Homo sapiens: one gene and its partners. The protein of the gene in region 1 purifies or fractionates together with the protein of each later gene. This does not show direct contact. Each region holds a gene or a part of one and is shown in the gene's direction. Other genes may lie near its edges.

Region 1 (4,157 bases):
TTGTAATCTTTGATTTTTTTGCATTTGTAATGGCTTTGTACTTAAGGTAGGATTACATGTTTACAGATTGTGGGGGAAAAAAAAAGAAAAGTGAAGGGAGAGAAAAGACAAGGCGAGTGGCCAGAGACCCTCAGGATCCAAGAGTTAACTCTGATTAACTCAGATGCTTTGTTCAGCCAATTTCAGACTTCTTTTTTCCTAATACAAGCACTTAAGGATAAGCCTTTCTGTAAGAACTGCCTTACATGCATCATAGTATTTTAAATGTAGTGTTTTCATTCTTCTTCTAGTCTAATTACCTTCAACTTCTATTATTAGTTCTCTTAGACCCATTAGTTATTTAAAATTGTGTTATTAACAATTTCTAAGTTCATGGGGTTTCCTCTTTTTAAATTGCTCTTTACCTTCGTTGTCCTTCGTGGTGCTCTCCGTGGAAACCTGCTTTCTGATCTAGTAAGTGCTTATTCTTTGTGCATGTCCCTAGACTTGAAATCACTGCATAATCCCTAACTGTGTGTGTCCTGGCTTAGTGCATCTAATGAATGACTGAATGAATGCATCTTTGCCTTTGCCTTACCCCCGGGCCTGAAACATCGTCTTGGTCCCCTTCTCAATACCTTGGATCCTTGGAGATCAAGGTCCTGGTTGTTCTGGCAAGTTCAACACAATCTGGCCTCATGATCAGAGTCCTGTCCCTGAACTCAAGACAAGGGAGGGATGGGCAGAATTACCTCATGCTGTGCCAGGAAATATGAGTCTCATGGGGCATGGCCTGTGTGCCTGGGCAAATTCACTGCCTCACTACCCTGTGCTGAGATGATCTCTTTTTTTTTTTTTTTTTTTTTTTTTTTCTGAGATAGAGCCTCACTCTGTCACCAGACTGGAGTGTAGTAGTGCAATCTGGGCTCACTGCAACCTCCCTCTTCCCGGTTCAAGCAATTCTCCTGCCTCAGCCGCCCAAGTAGGTGGGACTACAGGTGCGCACCACCATGCCTGGCTGATTTTTGTATTTTCAGTAGAGACGGGGTTTCATCATGTTGGCCAGGATGATCTCGATCTCTTGACCTCGTGATTCACCTGCCTTGGCTTCCCAAAGTGCTGGGATTACAGGCATGAGCCACTGCGCCCGTCCAATCTCTCTTTCAGGGACAGATGTTCACTCTCTCTTGCAGCTCTGCCTGCCAGACTAAGCCTGAAAATATCTCTGCATCTGGCATTCCTTTACCACCTATGTGGGGCACAACCCAGAACAAAGTCCCTCCAAGTGTACCCTACTCTCTTTCCATTATCATTTCTCTGGTCTGAGATAGATGTTTATGACCTGCCAATAAATGCAGTGACTCAAACTCCAGTGCCCATACTCCTCATTCATACAGCCATGTTTAGGGAGGCTCTAGGGAGAAATGCACAGTTTGACATCGTTCATGAAGAGCCTCTCCACGGCTCCTGCGCCTGAGACAGCTGGCCTGACCTCCAAATCATCCATCCACCCCTGCTGTCATCTGTTTTCATAGTGTGAGATCAACCCACAGGAATATCCATGGCTTTTGTGCTCATTTTGGTTCTCAGTTTCTACGAGCTGGTGTCAGGTAAGCCTTTCAGTTTGGACTGTTGTTTTTCTCCTTGTTGAATAATATTTTGAGTTCATTCATGACAATGATCTCAGCACAGTGAGATGCAGGAATCTTTGGTGCTTGCATTCTCCAGCTTCTCCTGGCCTCAGGCTGGAAACTACCAATGCCAGGAGCTGTGGGAAGCACAGGGCAGCAGGAATTGAGGAAGACTCCTTGGGCTGTTTCTCAAGGACTTGGGCACTATCACAGTAGCTCAGAATAATGGGAGCAGGCCCTGGGAGCAGGGAGGGAACACATTGAGAACGCCAAGGTAAACACATTGTTCTCCCCAGGTGGGCTGTGGGGCTTAGGCAGGGGAAGTCTCTAATAAAATCCCCAGGTTTTTGACTTGGGTGCCTGGGTGGAAGGTGGCACTGTTTAGGATGTTTGGAGAAAAAGACAATGTGTCCAGTTATGCACATGCTGAGTTAGAAACACCTGTAGTTATGGGGTAGAGCACCAGACCTTTAAGTGAGGAGTAAGTTGGAACCTGGCATAGTCTAGGCAGAAACCCACTCTTCTTTCTCCTTCTAGTAACCATCAAGACAAAGCCTGGTGTATAGGATATTCAGTAATCAAATAAATTTTGCAGGGAGAGATAGGGGCTGGAGTAGAACACTGGATTCTGGGTGGTCAGTGTTAAGCCACAAAAAGTTCATTTGACTGTGTTCACTTTCTGTCTGGAACAGTTCCATCCTGCTATTTGTCTACCTATGACTGTTTTGCTAAACAAAGCCAACAAAACAGAAATAAGGGGATCAAAATCCATGTGTGCTCAGAGGGCGTGGTGGCTCACACCTGTAATCCCAGCACTTTGGGAGGCTGAGGTGGGTGGATCACCTGAGGTCAGGAGTTTGAGACTAGCCTGGCCAACATGGTGAAACCCCATCTCTACTAAAAACACAAAAATTAGCCGGGCATGGTGGTGAGCGCCTGTAGTCCCAGCTACTCGGGAGGCTGAGGCACGAGAATCACTTAAACCCAGGAGGCGGAGGTTGCAGTGTGCCAAGATCGTGCCACTGCACTCCAACCTGGGTGACAGAGTGAGACTTTGTCTCAAAAAAACAAAAACAAAAAATCACAATCCACGTATGTTACTCACAAGACAGCCTCCGTTTAAGTACATTCTCACCCATTTTCTGACAAGCCTTTCTGTCTGCTTTCTGTTTCTGCATGAGGCAGCAGGGCATGCTGGAAATGACCTTAGAGGAAGTAACACTATTTTTAAAACTTTCCTTTTCTCTATGAGCTTGTGGCTAATAACTTCTATTAGCATCAATTTTTGCTTATGATGACATAGAGATAATAAGATCACATCTGTGACATTCCTGTGGCTGAAGGGCTGCTGTGTGGATTGCGTGAACTCGTGCATGTAGAGCGTCCAGCACGGAGCTCCGCTGGGGCACAGTATGTTGCGACAACAGACAGTGTCATTCCTTGCTTCTCCCCAGGGGAAGGAGTAAAGGGAGACGCTGTCGGCAAGACAAATGACAGCAGCAAGGCTGGCCGGAGAAACAGACATATACTAAAAACTGTTTGCCTGGCTTGAGAGTCTCACACAGCCTTGAAGGCAGCACTCACAGCAGCCCAGCTGACAGGCTGGGTCCCAAAAGCTGATCTAGAGCAAGGGCCTTTCTGCAGGTGGTTTGTTTAGCAGACTGTTCTCAGAAACAAAAGTGACAGGGTGCAGAGAGTGAAGCCAGCGGGAGGTAAGCCATAGAGGGTGCGCTAATGAGCAGGTTGCTGCGGTGGCAACTGGGACCCAGTCCCACTGGGTCCTTTGGAGGAACTGTATAGACGATGGCTCAGGATCTTCCCAACATCCACTGCTTCCTGTTCCCCACTGGGTGAGATGTGCCCCTCCGGGACTATTAAAATCGCAAACCTTCTTGGCCACCCTGTGCCTGGGCTGAGGAGGTTCCAAAGGTTGCAAGAAGCCATCAGCAGAGAGGCAGAGGCCAGGCTCCAGGGGCGGAGCTGTCAGCAGGCAGGCAAGTGCCCATCCCATTCCAGGGGGACTCAGGGTTGGGTGGTGAGGAGCAGGGCCTCAACATCTGCTACACCAGGTCAGCAGCTGGTCTGACACCAGGCTGCAAAGTCACGCCTCACTTAATAATGCTCTTAAAGATGCATGAGTGAAATACATTTCAGCAAGATTTATAAAATGTACTTAAACTTAGAAATAATTAGTGCTAAAATTAAAAATATCCACTTATCTGGAAATTCACACATGGGATCCACTTTGCCTCTGATGCACATGCAGATACCACACACAGATATATCCATATACCATAAATGGATACATGTGAATGAATCAAGAGACACTGCCAATCAAAGGGGGTGGGTACTTAGAAGGTGAAGGGAGTGGGCCTCCATCGTTTGTGGTCTCTCTAAGAAGAACTCTAATCATACAGAGTTGTAAGTGTGATTTGCACCAGAAAAATTACTTAGTTGACCACAAAACCAAGAAGCAAATGCAAAAAGAAAGTAGCGCTCACCATTCCTAGGCATAATCCCTGTCTGTGGAGCCCATTCTCCATGCTG
Region 2 (3,500 bases), on another chromosome or scaffold:
GACCATATAGGAACCATTAGAATTGTAAAGAAAGAGATGCTTAAATTTGTTAAGGTGAAGAGGCATATTCAGGAAAGCCTTCATAAAAAAGAATATGCTGAGTCTCTCTTACTTTTTTTTTCTTTATTCCTTCCTCCTTTTTTTTTTTTGAGTAGAATCTTGGAAGATAGGTGTTTACTTCGTGGATGAGAAATGGAGTGATACATTAAAGAAACAGTAGTTATGGCTAAAGCATAGGATGGGACAGGTAACAGAGGAGTCTAAGAAGACTCAGGTTCTTCCTATGGGTCCTCCATAGCCAGATCCTGTTAGAAAAATGAGGAGTACAGAAAGAATAGCAAGTTTCCAAAGAAAGGCAATGAATTCAATTTTGAACTTTTGGACTTTGAAATTCTTTCGTGACAGTTCAATAGAAATAAAGAGTAGGCAGTCCTAGATACAGTTCTGTAGCTTTTTTTCTGGGCCGAGACCCTGTCCCTTCTATACTTGCTTACATTTCTGGTTTCTTGAAAACAAATAAGCCAGATCTTTCTCTGCTTTTCATCCTAGTCTAGCTACTGCCGTATTTCTCTTCTTCCCCTCACAGCCAGCTTCTTAGAAGCTGTTTGCATTTTCCTTCTCTTAGCCTGCTTCATTTTTACTCCTCAGTGCAGTGCAGTCTGACTTTTCCCTGTATCCCTTTACTGAAATGGCTTTCTCTGAGGTCACTAATTACGACTTCTGCCCTGCACTTTTGACCCCCAGCAGTCATCAAATCCAGTGGGAGCCTTTCAGGGCTGAGTTAATGCTCTCTCTCTAGTATTTTACAGAGTTGACCTTCATTTGCAACGTCCTGCTCCCTTGCGTCTATGGACCATTCTTGTCTATTCATCTTTCCTGCCTCTAACTCTCAGAATCTAATAACTGGTCAGAAATCAGTTTACTTAGTCAAATAGATCATCAGGCTTAAGTAAATCTTGATTTGTAAGGAAAAATATATGTTTTTTTTTTTTTTTTTCGAGACAGGCTCTTGCTCTTCCACCCAGGCTGGAATGCAGTAGTATGATCATACCTCACTGCAGCCCCAATACCCTGGGCTCAAGTGGTCCTCCTGCCTCAGCCCCCTGAGTAGCTGGGACTACAGGTGTGCATGACCGTGCCTGGCTAAATAAAAAAAAAAATGTTTTTTGTGGAGATGGGGTCTTGCTGTGTTGCCCAGGCTGGTCTCAAACTTCTGGCCTCAAGCAGTCCTTCTGCCCCAGGCTCACAAAGTGCTGGGATTACAGGCGTGACCCACTGTTCTTGGCCCCAAAAAGTACAAAATTTCTTATTCATCCTCTTTAGCTGTAAATACTATTACCCTATGAATTGATGGAAACTAGGATCTCGGCCACTCCCCTCCCCGCTCCTTCCCTATAATAGATAACAGTTCATTCTGATATTTTTTACTTGAGAAAACCAAATTTTGAGATATGACACAGATAAAACTAATTTGTTTAAAAGATAGTAGGTTGTGCATGCCTGATTAAAGTGTACACCCAGCTACCAGCTACTCGGGAGGATGAGGTGGGAGGATTGCTTGAGTCCAGGAGGTCGAGGTTGCAGTAAGCCGTGATCACACCACTTCACTTCAGCCTGGGTGACAGAGTGAGACTCTGTCTCAAAAAATAAAATAAAAAATCAAGTGTACAGCATAGTGGTGGTTCAATAACCTCCCACCTCTGTGGCCATAGGCTAGAACCTGCTACAATGTCACATCTGGCTCTTGAGCAGGACCCGCAATGAAAAACCTACCAGCTGCAAGGCCTTCCTTCCTGCAGTACAGTTCCACAGGTCTGAAAATACACTGAAAAACTAAGAAGAGCTGATACATTGTGAGCAAAACACAGGGCACTTGTGAGGCAGAAAGTGTGAGGAAATCCATCAATCTGCTTTTCAGGCAGAAATAGTCACAAATAGAACCAGCCTTGCGAATGTTTGAGGCAAATGAAAAGATAGCCAGTAAGTAGCCCTCTTAGCTATGCCTGCACACTAGTTGCTAACCAACAGTAGTATTACTGAAGTCATGAAAAATTATTTAAATGTGTGGATGTACAGCATGAATACTGAAATATTTTAATTTTTAAAATACCGATGCATATCATTTATTATCTTTCTCCTATGGGGAAATAGAAGGATTTTGATAGGAGTTATACTCAACAGAGTAAAATTCATTTGTTTAAACTGTGGAAAAGTGGGTATCATTAAAGATGTCTATACAGAACATTAAAATAATATTGTAACAATATTTGTGACATTTAAAAAAGTTATTTCATTTGATGTGTAGATAGTTTAAAAATCTTTTTTTCACCACTGTACCCAAACTGCCTGACATATAGCAGAAGAGGGTGAATAATCTAGAGACCTGATTTAACTTGAAAATAAACCAGAGGCTGCACGTGGTGGCTCATGCTTGTAATCCCAGTACTCTGGGAGGCTGAGACGGGCGGATCCTTGAGTCCAGGAGTTCAAGACCAGCCTGGCCAACATGGCGAAACCTCATCTCTACTAAAAATACAAAAATTAGCTGGGCGTGGTGGCACATGCCTGTTAGTGCCGGCTACTCAGGAGGCTTAGGCTGGAGGATTGCTTAAGTCTGGGAGGTTGAGGCTGCAGTGAGCTGAGATCATGCCACTGCACTCCAGCCTGGGCAACAGAGTGAGACCCTGTCTCAAAAAACAAAAACAAAAAAACACACATGCTTTTTATTTATATTTAAGATTTTTTTTTTTTTTTTTTTTTTTGAGACGGAGTCTCGCTCTGTCGCCCAGGCTAGAGTGCAGTGGTGCAATCTTGGCTCACTGCAACGTCTGCCTCCCAGGTTCAAGCAATTCTCCTCCCTTAGCCTCCTGAGTAGCAGGGACTACAGGTGCATGCCACCATGCCCAGCTAATTTTTTGTATTTTTAGTAGAGACAGGGTTTCACCGTGTTATCCAGGATGGTCTCAATCTCTTGACCTCATGATCTGCCCACCTCGGCCTCCCAAAGTGCTGGGATTACAAGTGTGAGCCACTGCGCCCTGGCCATATTTTAAAATTTATAATTAAAAAAAAAAGAAAACCAGAGAATCGATTTTAATCTGAGTCATTTAGTTCTGTTTACTAGGGGTGGGTTGCTGGGATTTTTTTGTTGTTGTTATTATGTAATGATATATTTGGATTTGCGTTTCCATGTCTCCAATATAGAGTCTTTAATGAAATTGAAAGTTAGATACTCAGTGTATATAAGTTGAGTTGAATTAATTTGATTCAGGAATTCTGCTTTTTGTAAATAGCTTCCTTATATTTTAGCTTATTCACTCTGGTAAGAGCTAACATTAAAGCAAAAGGGTTAGAAAAAAACACAATGTACATGGCATGTTTGGAGGCGTTTGTGAACCTCCATTCTCTACAACCTAAAACTTTCATCTCCCAATACTCTGGCTTTATTATCCTCATGAATGGTCTCCTTGTTTTATTACTGCTTCTCTCACAGGGATCCT
Region 3 (4,288 bases), on another chromosome or scaffold:
TATCCTCCTGGAGACGGGAACATTGAGGGAAAAATGCAGATTAAAAGCACAAAGAGCCACTTTGCCACCTCCCTGCCCTCCCCTCCCCCCTTCATGGAATCGCCACATTATAAGTAATTCCATTTTTCCTCTTTAGAATTAATAGGACCCAAGAAGGATGCATGGGGCAGAGGACAACCCTGGGGTGGCCAGAGATGGAGGCAGGGTATCCGGAGTGGGGGCTTAGAGATGGAGAGATGAAGAGGCAGGGAGAGGCAAGACAGGGGCAGAGGCCGGCACTCAGGGCCAGGGCTCAGGAGCTGGGCAGATGCACAGACCCTGAGGAGGAGAACAGGATGATGGGTAGGTTATCAGAGTCCCTACCTTGTTGTGATTTTTATTAGATGGTGCTCCATGGCTCTCACACATTGTTTAAGCCAATCCTACGGGCTGGAGCCGGCAGACCTGGGAGGGCTGGTGCTTTGTGGGGTCTCCTGCTAGAGACACCAGAGGCAGGGTAGGGCAGAGAAAGCAGAGACTCCAGAAACAGTATCAGTCTTCCAAGGAGCCCCAAGTTCTCTGTGTCCCATTAGGGCCAGGCTGTCTGGCCAAGGCAGGCAGGCAGGTAGAAGAGGGCTTTGCCTCCAGGCAGTGGGGAGGCCCCACATTTAAAAAGCCAGTTTACCTGGAAGAAGGCAGGCGGTGAGTAAATTCAGAGTCCCTGCACCCAGCCTGCCCTCCCATCAGTCCACATACCAGGGTCTTGAGGCTCAGGGCCTGTCTGAGGCCTAGGGCTGCTGGCCAGAGGGGGCAGGCTCCAGCCTTCCCTGGCTCCAGCAGGGAGACTTCGCTCATTCTTCTCTTGGCCTTTTCTTCCTACCTGGGCCAGGGACTCCCTGAGCCGTGGTGCCAGGGCCACCCAAGGCTGGGGAGGATGGGGAAGGGGGCGGCAAGCCCTCTTCTTGCAGGAGTCCCCGCTGAGCTCCCTTCACCAGGGGCTAGGTGAAGGGAGCGAGGCCAACCAGAAGCCCTAGTGGAGAGCCCATCCAGGGCAGGGGTTCCAAGGAGGACAAAAAAGCCGGTTAGTGAAGGTGCGCTCTGCGCCAGGGACTGTGCCGGCAGACACAGGCACTACTGACACCGCCCCCAGCCCTTCGGAGGAGTCCTCGGCTCCTCATCTCCAGCTCCAGCCCCTTTCCAGCCGGCTGGTGGGCGGCTGGGAGTGGGGACACTGGATCGGAGGGGACCCTTCACGGGAGTACTCGCTGCCCTCACTCGTCTCGGAACGCGGCTGGACCCGGAGTCCCCGACCGCAGCCCGCGCACGACCCCCGGGAGCCTGTCTCCGCGGCCGCCGACCCACGTCCGCGCTGCCGCCCCACTGCCAGGTGGCCCGAGAGATGCAGGAGGAAGGAGGGGCGCGCGGGGCGGGCGGAGGAGGGTGGAGCCGCCGGCGCGCCCCCTCCCTCGGGCCGGCAGGCGGGCGGCGCGGCGGGCTCGGCGCGGCGGCAGAGGAGGCGGCGGGCGCTGGGAGACACCGGACGCCCGCTCGGCTGCGCTGCGGCTCAGGCCCCCGCTCGGGCCCGACCCGCTCGGTCACCGCCGGCTCGGGCGCGCACCTGCCGGGTAAGTGGCGCCCGAGTCCCTGCCGCTGAGGCCACCACCGCGGCCACTTCCGTCGCCGCCGCCGCCACTGCGCGGAGCCTCCCGGCTTTGTCTGCGTCCTCTCGGCTGCGGCTCCGGCTGCGGCTGCGGCTGCGGCTCCCGGGCTCGGCTCTCGGGCTCCGCGGACTGCGCCGCACGGCGCCGGGGCTCGGGGGTCGCCAGCCAGCTCGCTCCCCGCCGGGGGTGAAACTTCGCCCAAGTTTGGGTTCTGGGGAGAACCTGTTGAAGCCAGGAGTGGCTCGGGGCGGGGACAGAGATGGTGGGAGTGGGGGGAGGGAACCCGTCTCGGGTTCTCCATCAGGGCCGTCCAGTGGGTGGGTTGTGTGTCCGCCACCCTGGGGCGTTGGCGCGCGCCCCTAGGGAAGGGGCGAGTGGGCCGTCGGGCCACCGAGCAGAAGGAGCCAGGGAGCGGGGTTGGCGTGGTCGATCCCGCGGACTTCCGCGAGGACAAAGTTTGGTTCTTTGGCCGCTTTGCGGAGCGTCTGTCTGGGTCCAGCGCGGAGAGCTGAAAGTGTCGCATAGACGCGCCCCTGACCGCACCTCCTCACTCCAGCCTCCGCTTCTTCCCCCACTCCACCCGGCCTTGGCTGGGGCAGGTCGTGGAAGAGAAAGGCGAAGGGGAAGAGGGACGACCTTTCAATGAAGGCCCACTACGTGCCAGGCCCCTTGCCTGGCGCCTCTTGCTTCCAATAAGAGCCCTCCCAACCCTGCGGCCCTCAAGTGTGTGCAGGGAGGGGACAGGGGGGAAGACTCCACTGTGCACCCGGGGGTGGTGGCCCCGCCGAACCCTCATAGTCCCTGGTTTCCGCAGTGAATGAGGCCCGCGGCTGGGGCCTCTGCACCCAGGCCTGTGTCCCTCCTCGCGGTGACCCTGAGCCCCATCCGGCTGCGGCGCCTCCTGAGCCTGCTTCCGCCCTTCCCGCAGCTGCGGCCCCAGGGCCATGCGGAGGCCCACGAGGAGGCCGGCGGCCACGCGCATCCCGTAGCCCAGGTGGCCCAGGTCTGCACCGCGGCGGCCTCGGCGCCATGGAGCCCCCGTATTCGCTGACGGCGCACTACGATGAGTTCCAAGAGGTCAAGTACGTGAGCCGCTGCGGCGCGGGGGGCGCGCGCGGGGCCTCCCTGCCCCCGGGCTTCCCGTTGGGCGCTGCGCGCAGCGCCACCGGGGCCCGGTCCGGGCTGCCGCGCTGGAACCGGCGCGAGGTGTGCCTGCTGTCGGGGCTGGTGTTCGCCGCCGGCCTCTGCGCCATTCTGGCGGCTATGCTGGCCCTCAAGTACCTGGGCCCGGTCGCGGCCGGCGGCGGCGCCTGTCCCGAGGGCTGCCCTGAGCGCAAGGCCTTCGCGCGCGCCGCTCGCTTCCTGGCCGCCAACCTGGACGCCAGCATCGACCCATGCCAGGACTTCTACTCGTTCGCCTGCGGCGGTTGGCTGCGGCGCCACGCCATCCCCGACGACAAGCTCACCTATGGCACCATCGCGGCCATCGGCGAGCAAAACGAGGAGCGCCTACGGCGCCTGCTGGCGCGGCCCGGGGGTGGGCCTGGCGGCGCGGCCCAGCGCAAGGTGCGCGCCTTCTTCCGCTCGTGCCTCGACATGCGCGAGATCGAGCGACTGGGCCCGCGACCCATGCTAGAGGTCATCGAGGACTGCGGGGGCTGGGACCTGGGCGGCGCGGAGGAGCGTCCGGGGGTCGCGGCGCGATGGGACCTCAACCGGCTGCTGTACAAGGCGCAGGGCGTGTACAGCGCCGCCGCGCTCTTCTCGCTCACGGTCAGCCTGGACGACAGGAACTCCTCGCGCTACGTCATCCGCGTGAGTGCGCCCCCTGAGCGCCCTGCCAGCGGCCGCGGATCCGGGGCGCAGTGGCCTTGCCCAGGGGTCCCTGCGCGCGGGAGGCGGGTGCGTGAGAGGAGAGGAGGGAAGAGACGAGCAGGAGAGGGGAGGGGAGGGGAGCGCACAGAGGCAGAGCGCGGGAGGAGGGCGCAAGTAATTTCCCTGGGGTAATTGCGGTGTTTAGAGGAGCCGCGGGAGCCGCAATTTCCCAGCCCTCTGGCAGGCAGTGAGGGCCAGGAGGGAGAGGCGCGCCGGCGGGCTGGGTTGACGTCTCCGCGAGGTCTGGAGCTGGCCCCAAAGCTAGGGGTCCCAACTGTCAGTGGGGGACCTACGAATGCCCCGGACAGATAAGGAAAGTGCAGACGTACAGGGGTAAGATTGGGCATCCGCAGGCTGGGACAGTCAGGGATGGGGCTTTGGCCATCTCGTCTGGGTGGAAAGAGGAGCTGGGGTCTGCGTGCTTCTGTGGCTGTACTCATGGATGTCTGGTTGCTCTCTGGGCATTGGAGTGGGAATTCCCTCTGTTTAGGGAACCTGAGGTGTGGGCCTCTGACCTGTGGCCCCTGTCTCCCTCCCCAGATTGACCAGGATGGGCTCACCCTGCCAGAGAGGACCCTGTACCTCGCTCAGGATGAGGACAGTGAGAAGGTGCTGGGGCATGGGATGGGGAGGCAGGGAAGGCCTGGGGCCCCAGGAGGGGTGGATCCAGGCTAGGCCTGTCCCTGTCCCTGGGTGAGCCCCCTCCCCTGGTGCAGATCCTGGCAGCATACAGGGTGTTCATGGAGCGAGTGCTCAGCCTCCTGGGTGCAGAC
Region 4 (3,500 bases), on another chromosome or scaffold:
GAGTTAAGATATGTAAATCGAGTATTATAATCGTTGGTATCATCATTATTATTGATACTTCTTATAGTAGCCCTATAAAGTTAGAATGGTGGTATCTCCACGTTACCTATGATGAAACTTGGACTCTGAAAGGTTAAGTGACTTGCTAGCTAAGTAAGGGGTAGAGCTGCGTTTCAAACCCAAATCTGTGTGGCTGCTGGGTCACACTCTTCTATACCACACTGCCTCCATGCCCTGGTCAAAGTGTTCTTCAAACACAATTTTACTAAAGGACAGAATGGAAATTTGATGTGTGGCAAAGTACATTTAAAGCTTGAATTCTGCATTGGTAATTGTCACACAGGGAAATGAACTGTGTGGAATAGCCAGTCACCTACATCGATGCCTTCCTGAGTCCTGAATGGTGTAAATTGACAATAGTTTTCGTTTTCCTACAGGTTCACTTCTTAAAAGAGGGATGTGGAGACGACAATGTATGTAACAGCAACCTTAAACTAGAATATAAATTTTGCACCCGAGAAGGAAATCAAGACAAATTTTCTTATTTACCAATGTAAGAATCGTTGTGTAGCACTAGCAAAAATGATTCTGGCTTCATGGTGGCTTTGTGTTAAGAAAGTTTACTGGAAACGTATTGAGGACTTTGCCTTTTTGTTCTTGTTTTCTTATTTTTAATAGTCAAAAAGGTGTACCAGAACTAGTTCTAAAAGATCAGAAGGATATTGCTTTAGAAATAACAGTGACAAACAGCCCTTCCAACCCAAGGAATCCCACAAAAGATGGCGATGACGCCCATGAGGCTAAACTGATTGCAACGTTTCCAGACACTTTAACCTATTCTGCATATAGAGAACTGAGGGCTTTCCCTGTAAGTATTGTTAGAGACCAGCTGAGAGGGGAAAAAAATCAACACTGTGTGGCAAATGAGTGGATTGTGACCTAGCGTGTGTTTCTTTTACAGGAGAAACAGTTGAGTTGTGTTGCCAACCAGAATGGCTCGCAAGCTGACTGTGAGCTCGGAAATCCTTTTAAAAGAAATTCAAATGTAGGTGATGCCTTCATATACTGTATTTTACTGTTTTAAATACCATTGCAGTGTCTGTATGCATGGCCTGTGTTAACAGCTATTTATGTTTTTTTAGGTCACTTTTTATTTGGTTTTAAGTACAACTGAAGTCACCTTTGACACCCCAGATCTGGATATTAATCTGAAGTTAGAAACGTAAGAGTTACATCAACCTCTCCATTCAGAATTATTTCATGAAAATATGGGCAGTCAATGAATTGGCCCTGATCTACCTCATAAAAGAAGTCTAATTGTAGTGAGAAAACTGACTGGTAAAATACAACCCTATTGTTTCCTTTTCATTTTCAGAACAAGCAATCAAGATAATTTGGCTCCAATTACAGCTAAAGCAAAAGTGGTTATTGAACTGCTTTTATCGGTCTCGGGGTAAGTGTTTGTGTTTAGCATAACAAATCAATGTTTGAAAGAACCATTTACAATCCTCATTAAAACTGGTGTTTTTTAATTTGACAGAGTTGCTAAACCTTCCCAGGTGTATTTTGGAGGTACAGTTGTTGGCGAGCAAGCTATGAAATCTGAAGATGAAGTGGGAAGTTTAATAGAGTATGAATTCAGGGTAAGTTGGAGCAGTTGGTCTTTTCATTATACCAAAAGCTGACATATACTAGGTATGGTCTTGAGTATGTCATTTTAATAAATCAGCAATATTAATAAGCATTGTAAGTAAATCATGAGTTAAAAATTAGTTTGCCAGCTTTTAAAGAACATACTGGCTTATAGTAAAAATTTTATCCTCCAGGATGGAGAACAATTGTCACTGTTCAGAATCCAGTTCAGTTTAGAATGCGTTATGATTTATTCCTTCCTCCTTTATAAGGTCATCTTTCTCACTGCTTGTGGTTGAAAGAATATTAATGTATGCCTACCTTTCACAAGCCCAGTTTTTGTGGTGAATGTAGATTTGGTATATGCCTGTAGGAAAGGCAGTGACTGGCTCTGAACCATTTCAAAGTAGGCAATCACAGTGACTCTCTGTCCTGTTGAATAAACATAAACATAGGGTACAGAGTCTGTTCGTAACTCACACATGGGTTTAGGTCTGTGTGGCTGAAATCACATTCCTGAAGGCATAGTGACCACTGTGGTGAAAGCCTCAAATGGCAAGCATGGGCCCACCTGACTCCGGCAGAATGAAGAGGCTGAATTCTCCTCTGTGTGTCTCTTAGCATTATAGACACAGCTGGGGCAGGTGGTGGTGGTGGTTATGATCTCTATGCAGGTGCAGCTGGAAAAGAAGTCTTTGGGTTCTGGAACAGTCTCGACACCAAGAGGGCTCTTACCTCCTGTGTTTGGCTTCTGCCGCAGGACGTCACTCTGTTCCCAGCTTGGACTCTCAGATTCATGGCTGTCCTAATAATGGTTTTGCAGAATCTCCTCTGGGACAGAGGCAGCTTCATTTTTGCAGTGGATGGGGTTTTCCAGAAGCAGGTTGTTGGTACACTGCCTTGGCCCAGGACTTGTCATTGGCCAAGCAGGGTGGTTACAGGGCAGTTCACAAATTCACACATGATTTTCCCTGGGCGTATGTTGAGAACATGGTATATCTACACTGCTGATTCTGTTGCATACAGCAGTTGTTCCTAGAACGAGTTAGCTATCAGTTGTCCTTTGACCTTTTTGTTTTTATTTACAAAAATCTTTAGGCACAAGTCTTTATTTTGAATGCCCTATCTATAGTCCATTTTTGGAGCCTGTGCTTTTATTATAGGATTACGTTAGATATTTTAGCTTCTTTCTCTTGGTAAAAGGAGCTGCTACTTAAATTTACATTGAGAAGATTAGACTGAGATAATATGTATTATTTTCTAACAGGTAATAAACTTAGGTAAACCTCTTACAAACCTCGGCACAGCAACCTTGAACATTCAGTGGCCAAAAGAAATTAGCAATGGGAAATGGTTGCTTTATTTGGTGAAAGTAGAATCCAAAGGATTGGAAAAGGTAACTTGTGAGCCACAAAAGGAGATAAACTCCCTGAACCTAACGGTATGTCGGTAGATTTATCTAATGTCTCCATAAATGCAAATTAGAGAAACTAACTTGTTAGGGGAAAATCATTACTGTTCTTAGGAAAGTGGCATATTCTGGCAGGTTGACTTTCTCTTTGGTTGTCACAATTTCTCTTTTCTAGTTGGGTAACTGAGGGAGGCTGAGGCATTTTTGCTGGTTAATGACCATTATAGTACATAAGGCAGAGTCATTCAGTGCTTGCTGAGGCAAATGGTATTTTCTGATGTTTCATCATGACCCAGTATGTTACATAATAAGGAGAACTGGGGGATGCTCCTGGGGTAATAGTAGCTGCTGTTATCCAGGGGCCAGCCAGTGTTCACTCCAAGTAGAACCAAACTCATTGGAAAAGATAATGGCATCTCAGCAAGTAACCTTGAAAGCTTTTTATGCTTATTTTTAA
Region 5 (3,500 bases), on another chromosome or scaffold:
CTTTCTCTCTAGATCATGGCTGTTAGAAGTCCCCTCCACAAAAACTTGCCAAGGAGTCATTTCCTGGTTTTTGCACTGCTGCCCTTCCCCGTCTCCTTAATCTCTTTTTAAGTAGGCAATTAACTTGTGCGTGCATGTGTCAATTATGCCTATAAAGACTGCTATTCTCTACAGGGCAAAAACCTCTGCCCTCCTGCCTCTGGAGGGGCCAAACTCAACTACACTGTGCTCATCGGAGAGACCCCTTGTGCTGTCACCGTATCTGAGACCCAGCTTCTCTGCGAGCCTCCCAACCTCACCGGGCAGCACAAGGTCATGGTGAGTGAGCCCTGCGTCTGTAATGCCTCCTTCCCGCCTCGTGGTGCATGTGTGATCTGTCCTAAGGAAAGGCTCTCTTCTGTCTCGTTGCCTGACTCACCCCCTCCATATCTCCTCATCTCTGGGTCCTACATCAAATTGGGTATAAGCTGAGAACACAAGAAAAGAAAGGCAGATGCCGAGGCAGGAAATTGCTTTTTATCTAGAGCTGCACTGTGTGGTTGTGGTCTGTCATGTCCTTCCTCGCACTGTAAGGATCTGCTGGCATGCCCGGGCTCTACACCTGTGTGCATCCATGTGCGTCTGTATGTGTACAATGCACAGGTTCACGTGGGCGGGATGGTGTTCTCGCCTGGCTCGGTGAGTGTCATCTCAGACAGCTTGCTGACCCTGCCAGCCATCGTCAGCATCGCGGCCGGCGGCAGCCTCCTCCTCATCATCGTCATCATCGTCCTCATTGCCTACAAGCGCAAGTCTCGAGAAAATGACCTCACTCTCAAGCGGCTGCAAATGCAGATGGACAATCTGGAGTCCCGTGTGGCCTTGGAGTGCAAGGAAGGTTAGTGGAAGCACACCCTCATTTGCTGGGTCCCTCTTTCTCCACCTGCCTTATTGCCCTTCTCCCTGCAGACAACTCCTATCTTTACTCCCATCGCTGCCAGCCATGCCTCTGCATTCCACTTTCACCCCTGTTTTCCCAGAACTTCTTTTGCTTATAGGGTCAGAGATGTCCAATGAAGAATGCCCACTGCATGAGGACCCAGGTCCAATTGCATTGTTCTAGTCCCTTCTTTGCCCTGACCCATCCCACAATCTGGCAAACACTTTCTCCCTCTCAGGGCCTCAATGTCCCCACAGTCAGAGTCCCCAGGCTCCACAGCCCCAGACTCTAGATCCCCCATGGGAGTGTCCAGCTCTTGTTTTTCTGCACACTGTCTTCGCAGCACGTGGGAGCAGCGGCAGCAAAGGCAGACAAGCACCTGCCTCATCTCCCCCAGGGTTTGTTTTCCATCAGTGCTGCAGGCTGAGCGCTCTGAAGGCCGCCACTTGCTGGTGTCCTTGGCTGTGGACGTGTGTGGGAGTGCAGATTGTGTTTTCTCCCATGTCCCACGCAACCACAGCCTCGAGGTGACGAGTGTACCTGGCGTCCTCTCAGGCTGAGGACCTGGCAGGCTCTCTGGGTAAACAGCTCAATTAGGAATGAAAACATTTCTCCTTTTGCTGCAAATGTCAAGATCAGAAACAAGCCCTCTGCTGGATGACAGGGAAGAGCTGGGCTGGGAAATAGGACATGTGGAGCCAAGGTTCCTCCTGGCAACAGGGCTGGTGAGTTTGGCAGAGGAAGGAGCCAGGAAGACAGGTGTGCCACCACCAAGGTGAGGCTTCTGAAGCCCTTGCCTTCCCAAACTCGGCTCTCAGCTGAGCGTCTCATGACCAGACCTCCCCTAGGCTTTTGCATCTTGATTTATTACCTTGATTAGAAAAGGGCAGCACTTTGCCTGTTCTGGTCTTTGCTGGACCCCCTCAGCCATGGTCTCTCACCTGCCTCCAGCATCTCCGTGATCTTTACTAAACGGCCCAATCATGATACTTTTTTTTCCTTGTTGAAACTACACTTGTAATATGTAAAGAGAAAATTTGAAATTATAGATAAGTATAGAGGAGAAAATAACATAAAAATCACCCATTTCCCCACCACCTAAAAACAGCTGGGAGTAGCCCCGCCCTCTGGAGACACACTCCCGTAATCCTCAGAGTCTCTACAAAAGGTCCTCCCCTCGTCCTTTGCAAACTTCTTCTCCCTCTTTCTCCTCCCCCGACTGGGGCTTCCCCACGAGCCTCTCCGTCTGCTTATTCTCATAGCTTTTGCTGAGCTCCAGACGGATATCAATGAGTTGACCAGTGACCTGGACCGCTCAGGAATCCCTTACCTGGACTATCGTACCTACGCTATGCGAGTCCTGTTCCCGGGCATCGAGGACCACCCCGTCCTGCGGGAGCTGGAGGTAATGCCTGCCTCCTGGGCCCAGCCACCCAGCAGGGATGCAGGCCCAGGGTATCCTAGGAAATCCAGATGAGACTCAGCAGTACTGAGTAAGGTTAGCAGGGAAGAGGGGTCAGTAGTTTGTAACAGCATCTCAGCAACAGAGCTATCAGGAAGGTTACGGCTGAGGGGGCACCCAGGCTCCTTGGGATGGTTCCAGGGTAAAGCTCATTGTTTGTCATTTTTTAATTAATGACTGAACTAATTAACTAAGATCCTGCCTCATTCTAAAATGGATTTAAGATGGCTTAAAGAAAGACACAGGATTCTATGAGGTTTGTTTGTTCATTTGTTGGTTTGTTTTACTAAAGATAATAAATCAGGCAGAGGAGATTAAGGGGAGACTAGTAAACTGAAGAAGTTTGAGGGGGCATCTCCTATTCTATCCTTGGGAAAATCAGGCAGCCTCCCCTCTGAGAGCTCCGCATGGAGCCCAGCCTCCCCGGCCCAGTGCAAGGTCAGAGCAGACTGTCGACCTTAGAGCCAGCTGTTCCTACATCATCACGGGTGAGTGGAATGGGGTGGGGTTGGTTATAGGCCTCAAACATAGGGTCCTACAGCTAGTGTCATCGCCAGCAGGCCCTCAGTGAGACCCTCAGGTAGGAGGCCCGATGCCTGTCCTCTGAGGGCGTCGCCTCCACCACACCCCACCCCAGGTACAAGGAAACGGGCAGCAGCACGTGGAGAAGGCCCTGAAGCTCTTTGCCCAGCTCATCAACAACAAGGTGTTCCTGCTGACCTTCATCCGCACCCTGGAGCTGCAGCGCAGTTTCTCCATGCGCGACCGGGGCAACGTGGCTTCGCTCATCATGACCGGCCTGCAGGGCCGCCTGGAATATGCCACTGATGTCCTCAAGCAGCTGCTCTCTGACCTCATCGATAAGAACCTGGAGAACAAGAACCACCCCAAGCTGCTACTCCGGAGGTCTGGCCCGCAGCAGTGGGTGGAGAGGGTGGCAGGAGTCTGAACCTGGACAGAGCACCTCATTATAGCAGGCCCCACAAGCAGCATGAGAAGGCCCACTCCCCAGAAGGGGCACCCATTCAGAGCAGCCTGTGTCCTCACGTCTCTGCAGGGCAGAATCTGACTTTCCCTCAGCCCAGGGAGACTACAGAGTCTGAAGTCACCCAGGTGTGA
Region 6 (3,500 bases), on another chromosome or scaffold:
AACAGAAAAGCTTTTGTATGTCTCTTTTTTTGTTTTTTTGTTTGTTTGTTTTTTTCTGTACATAAATATATGCCTTTCCCAATTTTTGTTTAGGAAACAAAAATTTCTAAACTATGCATTTTTGTAATAGTCTTTATTTCTTTTAGCATGTTGTAAACTTTCCCCATGTCAACAGATATTTTTCAAAACATTTTTATATCGCTTTGATTCATTTATATGGGTATATAATTGATGATAGTTGAAATAAGATTGGCAAAATATTATATTTGAAGCTCAAAATGGAATTCATTTTACTGTTTCCTCAGCTTTTGAGTGTGTTTGAAATATTCCAAAAGAAAAATCCAGACTTGAATGGTGTATTCCTGAGAGAGAGTTGCAATGGCCATCTCCACAAAACACCTGATGACTGAGGAATAGATGAGACGAGGGCAGATTTTTAGTCATAAAAAATGAGTTCAGATTGAGTTGAAGTTTTTGCCTACTGTAGATCATTAGATGGACTAATTTTTCATTTATGCATATGTCAAACTATAATTTTGCTGAGACATAGTATGGTTAGAAGGACGTAGTAGAACTTAAAGCTAGATAAATAATGAAGCACCATATTAGAAAGCTCTGAATTTCCATGTGATAAGTTTGTAGGCTAAAGGGGCAAATGCTTTAGGAAAATTTCGTAGCAATATGTTTGGTGTTTAAAGTAGGGAAGGTCTGAGTGAGAGATTGCAGTTAAAAGCTGTTTATTACTAAAGTGAAGGCCAGTTATCAGGAGGATCTGAACAGGGAAGGAAAATGGGCTGAAATCACAAGTTTGAGTTGACAGCTGAATGTTTCTAGGGAGTCAAATATCCCTAGGATTCAAATTGAGTTAACTGGGAGTGGCAAGTTGATTGATAGTAGTGAGGACAGAGAGACAGTCAAAGAAAGGTTTTAGCTCTGCTGAATATTTAGTCCCAAAGGAACATCCAGGTGGTGATGTCCAGTAGTTGGGAATGTAGAACTAAAGTGAAGAAGAAGGGAAACCAAAGAAAAAGTTGATAGTTTTTGAGACTACTGGAGTGGCTGTAATTTACCAGGGAGAGAGCAAAAAAGGGTGAGAGAACTAGTGGCAAACTTTGGTAACAGTTGCATATAAGGTGCAGGTGGTATAGGTGGAGAAAAAGAAGCTAGAGGAGAGGTGATCAGAACCAATTGTGTAAAGTGTTGTGGAAACTAAGAAAAAGAAAAATTTTAAAGAAAAGGAAGAAAAAGTTTAAGGATAATTGATAGAGCAAAGTCAGGAAGGAGACAGGAGGATTGGATCCAAAGTAAGTATACAGATAGAGGGATATTTTCTCCTCTGAAGTAAGATAATACTAAAAATGATGGTAGGGAGAAAAGGTAGCTTCATATTGATCTTTTTGGCAAATAAGGTGATAGCATGCACAGAGTAAAAGAGAGTAGGGAGAGTAGACTTTAGGGAAACAGGAAAGATTTACAGCTGATGTTTGAGAGACTTAGTTGTTTACAGACTGATCAAAAGAATGCTAAGCAGCCCTGAACACCTTGCCAAAGATGGATGGCTAACTTGATGCTAGATCCAAGCGGCAAGCTCAAGAGCAGGAAAGGGCAATAGTGGGGCTAGTAAAGCTGGGGATCAAAAAACATGAGGACGAGAAAATAAAATATTGGTAAGAACATCGTTGTAATCTTGAGACACAGGGTTGGATAGAAGAGCAAGTGGTATCAGGAGACCAACAGGACCATGAGAAGAAAAGAGGAATGATTGGGCCGGGAAGTTGCCTAAAAGTAGTGAGCAGACAGGATTGTAAGAGGTGAAAAATAGGAGCTTGTGATCAGAGACTAATTGAAAATGAAAGATCTTTGATGTGGACAAGTTCCAAGTGATGACCGAGTCTAAAGCCTGATCTTCCCAGACAGCTGAAGTAAGAGAGGACACAGGTTGAGGAAACCTGAAGTCAAGTTATGAGAAAGGGGTGGTGTTACTTAGATTTATTTAGGATGGCCCTAAGATCTTTGGAAAACAAAGAGCCTTCTCATTCTTTCTCTAAGTTCTACATAAAGGGATAGCTTGGGCAAGTGCTGTTTTAGAGAGTGTGGGAAGAGTGACAGGAAACAAGTAGCACCTTTAAGTGCTAACACACCTAGAATATCTATAGAAGCATACACTAGAAGCTACTAAGGTCAGGGAAGGGACAGTATGGCTGGGAGACAGAGGTGGAAAGAATATTTTTTACTGTACATCTTTTTATACCTTTATACCTTTCAAATTTTAAACTACGTGTAACAATTAAAAAATAAGAAAAATAAAAACAACGTAGATATTACAGATGCAGATAGTAACCAGCTTGTTTAACTTTAAAGCAGTTTATCCCTTACTTGTTCTTTCTGGTTTTGAAAAAGATGAATGTGATGGGTACGGTTGATAAAAAGAATCTGTAAAAGTACGTTATTCATAGTATAGTATTTTGCTACATTATTTTCAAGCACTGCTCTCTTAATTTGAATCTTTCATCATATGTCTTGTAATCCCTGGAGTATTTTAGAATTTCCTTCAGTGGAATCACAGCTTTCCCTCACTCTAAGTCTGATTTAGCCATTAATAGAATCCTTTAAATAGATCTCTCTCTGTTCACTTCTTCAGTTCAAACTGAGAGATGTCATCTAACCTAAGAAGAGATAGAAAGCAATTAGGAGTTAGCATCCTGGCACTCTTTTTGGGATCCTGTGTCATCATCTGGTTTGAAAAGGTAAACATCTCCAGGATATCAGCACATTCAGGGTTTGAGAATTAGCACACTGATTCATCCAAAAGCCAAATAAAATATTGTTGAGATTTTCCTATTATTCTTCTATTAGTTAAATAACCAGAGGTAATGGCAATTATATATATTTAATTAAATACATTTAACAAATGTAGTAATTTCTATTGCAATAATTTACATGTTTTCCCTTTTAAAATCTTAAACCAGGTGTGAAAATCACATCAACACTGCAAGTGTTGAAGCTTATCAAGCAGGCTGGTGACCGAGTCCTGGTGTACTATGAAAGGCCTGTTGGCCAGAGTAATCAAGGTGCAGTGCTGCAAGATAACTTTGGCCAGTTGGAAGAAAACTTTTTGTCAAGCTCATGCCAATCGGGTTATGAAGAGGAAGCTGCCGGGTTGACAGTAGATACTGAAAGTAGAGAGCTGGATTCTGAATTTGAAGACTTGGCAAGTGATGTCAGAGCACAAAATGAGTTCAAAGATGAGGCACAATCATTAAGTCATAGTCCCAAACGTGTTCCAACAACACTTTCTATTAAACCCCTTGGAGCTATATCACCAGTTTTAAACCGTAAATTAGCTGTAGGAAGTCACCCACTACCACCGAAAATTCAGTCCAAAGATGGAAATAAACCTCCACCCCTAAAAACTTCTGAGATAACAGACCCAGCACAAGTGTCAAAACCAACCCAAGGATCTGCTTTCAAACCACCTGTGCCACCACGACCACAAGCGA
Region 7 (4,250 bases), on another chromosome or scaffold:
AGAGATGGGGTTTCACTGTGTTAGCCAGAATGGTCTCGATATCCTGACCTCATGATCCACCCACCTCAGCTTCCCAAAGCGCTGGGATTACAGGCATGAGCCACCGCGCCAGGCCTAATTTTTGTATTTTTTTGGTAGAGATGGGGTTTCACCATGTTGGCCAGGCTGGTCTTGAACTCATGACCTCAAGTGATCCGCTCGCCTCAGCCCCCCAAAGTGCTAGGATTACAGGTTTGAGCCATCAGGCCTGGCGTTGTTTGTTTGTTTGTTTGTTTGTTTGTTTTGGGAGATGGAGTCTCCGTCGCCCAGGATGGAGTGCAATGATGCCGTTTTGGCTCATTGCAGCCTCTACCTCGTGGGCTGAAATCATCCTCCCACCTCAGCCTCCCGAGTAGCTGGGACTACAGGTGCATGCCGCCATGCCCAGCTAATTTTTGTATTTTTTGTTGAGACGAGGTTTTCCTGTGTTGCCCAGGCTGGTCTCAAAATCCTGAGCTCATGTGATTTGACCACCTCAGCCTCTCAGAGTGCTGGAATTACAGATCTGAGCTACAGCACCCAGCTTGAATTATTTTAATTTTTGATGCTATTGTAAATAGTATTTTAAAATCTCAACTTCCAGTTGTTCATTGCTAATACTTGTAAACACAGTTGACTTTTATATGTTGAGTTTATATCTTGTTACCTTGCTAAATTCACTTTTTTTTTTTTTTTTTTTTTTTTTGAGACGGAGTCTCACTCTGTCGCCCAGGCCGGACTGCGGACTGCAGTGGCGCAATCTCGGCTCACTGCAAGCTCCGCTTCCCGGGTTCACGCCATTCTCCTGCCTCAGCCTCCCGAGTAGCTGGGACTACAGGCGCCCGCCACCGCGCCCGGCTAATTTTTTGTATTTTTAGTAGAGACGGGGTTTCACCTTGTTAGCCAGGATGGTCTCGATCTCCTGACCTCATGATCCACCCGCCTCGGCCTCCCAAAGTGCTGGGATTACAGGCGTGAGCCACCGCGCCCGGCCGCTAAATTCACTTTTTAGTTCAAGTAGATTTTTTTTACAGATTTCTTAGAATGTTCTTCATAAACAATCATTCTGTCTACAAATACATTGTTACTTCTTCCTTTTCAATCTGTAAACTTTTTATTTCTTTTTCTTGCATTTTTGTACTGGCTAACACCACTACTATAATGTTGAATGAAAGTGGTGGACGTCCTTGCCTTATTCCCAACTGGGAGAAAACATTTGGTGGGTCACCACTTAGTATGATGTTTCTTACAGTGATCTCCTAGGTGCCTTTTATCAAGATGAGGAATTTCTCTCTATTTCTAGATTACTAAGTGTTTCATTGTTTATTATTTCTTTTTTTTTTTTTTTTTTTTGAGACAGAGTTTTGCTCTTGTTGCCCAGGCTGGAGTGCAATGGCGAGATCTTGGCTCACCGCAACCTCTGCCTACCAGGTTCAAGCGATTCTCCTGCCTCTGCCTCCCGAATAGCTGGGATTACAGGCATGTGCCACCACACCCGGCTAATTTTGTTTTTTTAGTAGAGACTAAAACGTTGGCCAGGCTGGTCTCAAGCTCCCGACCTCAGGTGATCCACACGCCTCGACCTCCCAAAGTGCTGGGATTACAGGCCTGAGCCACCGTGCCCATCCTGTTATTACCATTAATGGATATTGGATTTTGTTAAATGCTTTTTCTGCATCTATTGAGATGTTCATAGTTTTTCCTTTTTATTCTGTTAATATGGCGAGTTACTTCTATTAATTTTCAAATATAAACAAATCTTGCATTCCTGGAGTGAACCCTACTTCATTATGATGTATTACCATTTTTATATGCTGTCGGATTCAGTTTTCTAAAATTTTGTTAAGAATATTTGCACCAGGTGTGGTGGCTAATGCCTGTAATCCCAGCACTTTGGGAAGCCAAGGCAGGCGGATCACTTAAGGCTGGAAGTTTGAGACCAGCCTGGCCAACATGGCAAAACCCTGTCTCTACTAAAATTACAAAAATTGGCCGGGCGCGGTGGCTCATGCCTGTAATCCCAGCACTTTGGGAGGCCGAGGTGGGTGAATCACAAGGTCAGAAGTTCGAGACCAGTGTGGCCAACATAGTGAAACCCCGTCTCTACTAAAAATACAAAAAATTAGCTGGATGTGGTGGTGTGCGCCTATAATCCCAGCTACTGGGGAGGCTGAGGCAGGAGAATCCCGTGAACCCAGGAAGTGAAGGTTTCAGTTAGCCAAGATCGTACCATCGCACTCCAGCCCAGGCGACAGTGCGAGACTCCATCTCAAAAAAAAAAAAAATACAAAAATTAGTCAGACATGGTGGCGGGCACCTATAATCCCAGCTACTCAGGAGGCTGAGGCAGAGAATTGCTTGAACCTGGGAGGCAGAGGTTGCAGTAAGCTGAGATCACACCACTGCACTCCAGCCTGGGCAACAGATTGAGACTCTGTCATAAATAAATAAACAAACAAACAAACAAAAATTAGCGGGCATGGTGGTGTGTGCCTGTAATCCCAGCTACTTGGGAGGCTGAGGTGGAAGAATCACTTGAATCCAGAAGGTGGAGGTTGCAGTGAGCTGAGATTGTGCCACTGCTCTCTAGCCTCAGTGACAGAGCAAGACTCCATCCGCCCCCGCCAAAAAAAGAATATTTGCATCTATGTTCATGAGGGATAGTATTCTGTAGCTGCTTTTCTTCTAACATCTTTGTCTGGTTTTGGTATCCCAATTAGATTTAATTAGCTCTCGTATTTCCTAAGTCATATTTCTAGAGTTAAATAGTTTTTGTTTTTCATAACATGATTTTTTCATTGGCTTGTCCTTATCAGACCAGAGCAGGGTATCAATCTTCCAAAATTCAGGCTGCTATGGTAGGGAGAAGCAGAGATCCTTTTGAATAGTAACAGTAATGTCAAGTGTTACATACTCCATACTCCTCTGCCAAAATATATCATGCATGAGCCTGTTTAGTCTTTATGATATTATAAAGTAGATAATAATCATCATTGAATAGAACAGGAAGCAGACCATGACAGGCTAAGCATCTTGCCCAGCCTACAAGATTGTGAATCTAATATAAGTGGCATACCAAAGATTAATACCAAGTCTCTAACTTCATCTTTCCGTGATGTTGTAATGACTAGTGTGGGCAGAGCCCATCTGACCTGTGACAGATAAGCTGACGTGAGTCTTGCATTTGAGGGTTCTGTAAAATCCTGAGGCATATGACTATTAAATGTGAAACCATCAAGTGTTTATTCTTCTATTTTATATGTGAAACTTGGGCATATACTTAATTATCCTATGCCACAGAAAGATTCCTATTGCGATTCACTTAAATGATCTTCTGTAGGGTAGCATTTAAGTCAATTAGAAAGATGAAAATTAAATGTCTTCAACGTATATACACACACGTTGTGTATGATTATAATTTTTTCTTTTTTTTTTTCTAGCAATGAAGCTTGGAGATACATGGGTGGCTTTGCAAAGAGTGTTTCCTTTTCTGATGTATTCTTTAAAGGATTCAAATGGGGATTTGCTGCATTTGTGGTAGCTGTAGGAGCTGAATATTACCTGGAGTCCCTGAATAAAGATAAGAAGCATCACTGAAGATAATACCTGGAAGCATCATAGTGGTTTCTTAACTCTCCAAAATAAGATTTCTTCTCTGTAGCCTACTTGTCTGGTTTATCCCTTACAGAATATTAGTAAGATTTAATCAATTAAAATATATATATATGCCAATCTGCTTTTGTCATTCTTAAAAAAAAAAAAGTGTCTCAAGCCATATCAGATTTGGTTTAGAATACATAGGGGGTTGGAGAACAGCAGTAGTGCGTTCTGCATATAGCAGGCAGGCATCATATATTTGGCTGAGCAAATGGGCATGTTCTAAGAAGTTTTTTTTTAATCTTTTTCTTTTTTTTTTTTTAACTAGTCCTGACCTAGCTGGCACTAACAAGTATTTAAATGGGAGTTGGCCTTGCTGTTTTTTTTTTGAGATGGAGTCTCGCTCTGTCACCCAGGCTGGAGTACAGTGGCGTGATCTCGGCTCACTGCAAGCTCTGCCTCCCGGGTTCACACCATTCTTCTGCCTCAGCCTCTCAAGTAGCTGGGACTACAGGCGCCCGCCACCATGCCCAGCTAATTTTGTTTTTGTATTTTCAGTAGAGACAGGGTTTCACCGTGTTAGTCAGGATGGTCTCGATCTCCTGACCTTGTGATCCACCCGCCTCAGCCTCCCA

Evidence for each region.
Region 2: the proteins of BTNL3 (region 1) and CGRRF1 purify together in Homo sapiens (affinity purification with mass spectrometry; one large-scale study listed by BioGRID and IntAct). This does not show direct contact.
Region 3: the proteins of BTNL3 (region 1) and ECEL1 purify together in Homo sapiens (affinity purification with mass spectrometry; one large-scale study listed by BioGRID and IntAct). This does not show direct contact.
Region 4: the proteins of BTNL3 (region 1) and ITGA6 purify together in Homo sapiens (affinity purification with mass spectrometry; one large-scale study listed by BioGRID and IntAct). This does not show direct contact.
Region 5: the proteins of BTNL3 (region 1) and PLXNA2 purify together in Homo sapiens (affinity purification with mass spectrometry; one large-scale study listed by BioGRID and IntAct). This does not show direct contact.
Region 6: the proteins of BTNL3 (region 1) and PDZD8 purify together in Homo sapiens (affinity purification with mass spectrometry; one large-scale study listed by BioGRID and IntAct). This does not show direct contact.
Region 7: the proteins of BTNL3 (region 1) and NDUFB3 purify together in Homo sapiens (affinity purification with mass spectrometry; one large-scale study listed by BioGRID and IntAct). This does not show direct contact.

What each region holds. Positions count from the first base shown.
Region 1 is NC_000005.10:180,987,489-180,991,645, forward strand, and holds the start of BTNL3 (butyrophilin-like protein 3 precursor), read left to right. Parts: upstream 1-1,357; 5' UTR 1,358-1,540; coding exon 1,541-1,589; intron 1,590-4,157.
Region 2 is NC_000014.9:54,523,406-54,526,905, forward strand, and holds part of CGRRF1 (cell growth regulator with RING finger domain protein 1), read left to right. Parts: intron 1-3,500. UniProt on the Homo sapiens protein: Able to inhibit growth in several cell lines.
Region 3 is NC_000002.12:232,485,035-232,489,322, reverse strand, and holds the start of ECEL1 (endothelin-converting enzyme-like 1), read left to right. Parts: upstream 1-1,488; 5' UTR 1,489-1,604; intron 1,605-2,568; 5' UTR 2,569-2,669; coding exon 2,670-3,455; intron 3,456-4,055; coding exon 4,056-4,124; intron 4,125-4,231; coding exon 4,232-4,288. UniProt on the Homo sapiens protein: May contribute to the degradation of peptide hormones and be involved in the inactivation of neuronal peptides.
Region 4 is NC_000002.12:172,486,586-172,490,085, forward strand, and holds part of ITGA6 (integrin alpha-6 isoform b preproprotein), read left to right. Parts: intron 1-437; coding exon 438-553; intron 554-678; coding exon 679-868; intron 869-961; coding exon 962-1,045; intron 1,046-1,142; coding exon 1,143-1,222; intron 1,223-1,375; coding exon 1,376-1,453; intron 1,454-1,540; coding exon 1,541-1,643; intron 1,644-1,953; exon of another isoform or gene 1,954-2,064; intron 2,065-2,899; coding exon 2,900-3,073; intron 3,074-3,500. UniProt on the Homo sapiens protein: Integrin alpha-6/beta-1 (ITGA6:ITGB1) is a receptor for laminin on platelets. Integrin alpha-6/beta-1 (ITGA6:ITGB1) is present in oocytes and is involved in sperm-egg fusion.
Region 5 is NC_000001.11:208,041,885-208,045,384, reverse strand, and holds part of PLXNA2 (plexin-A2 precursor), read left to right. Parts: intron 1-174; coding exon 175-318; intron 319-642; coding exon 643-877; intron 878-2,181; coding exon 2,182-2,324; intron 2,325-3,018; coding exon 3,019-3,287; intron 3,288-3,500. UniProt on the Homo sapiens protein: Coreceptor for SEMA3A and SEMA6A. Necessary for signaling by SEMA6A and class 3 semaphorins and subsequent remodeling of the cytoskeleton. Plays a role in axon guidance, invasive growth and cell migration.
Region 6 is NC_000010.11:117,284,941-117,288,440, reverse strand, and holds part of PDZD8 (PDZ domain-containing protein 8), read left to right. Parts: intron 1-2,641; coding exon of another isoform or gene 2,642-2,670; exon of another isoform or gene 2,671-2,747; intron 2,748-2,969; coding exon 2,970-3,500. UniProt on the Homo sapiens protein: Molecular tethering protein that connects endoplasmic reticulum and mitochondria membranes. PDZD8-dependent endoplasmic reticulum-mitochondria membrane tethering is essential for endoplasmic reticulum-mitochondria Ca(2+) transfer.
Region 7 is NC_000002.12:201,082,001-201,086,250, forward strand, and holds the end of NDUFB3 (NADH dehydrogenase [ubiquinone] 1 beta subcomplex subunit 3), read left to right. Parts: intron 1-3,458; coding exon 3,459-3,615; 3' UTR 3,616-3,750; downstream 3,751-4,250. UniProt on the Homo sapiens protein: Accessory subunit of the mitochondrial membrane respiratory chain NADH dehydrogenase (Complex I), that is believed not to be involved in catalysis. Complex I functions in the transfer of electrons from NADH to the respiratory chain.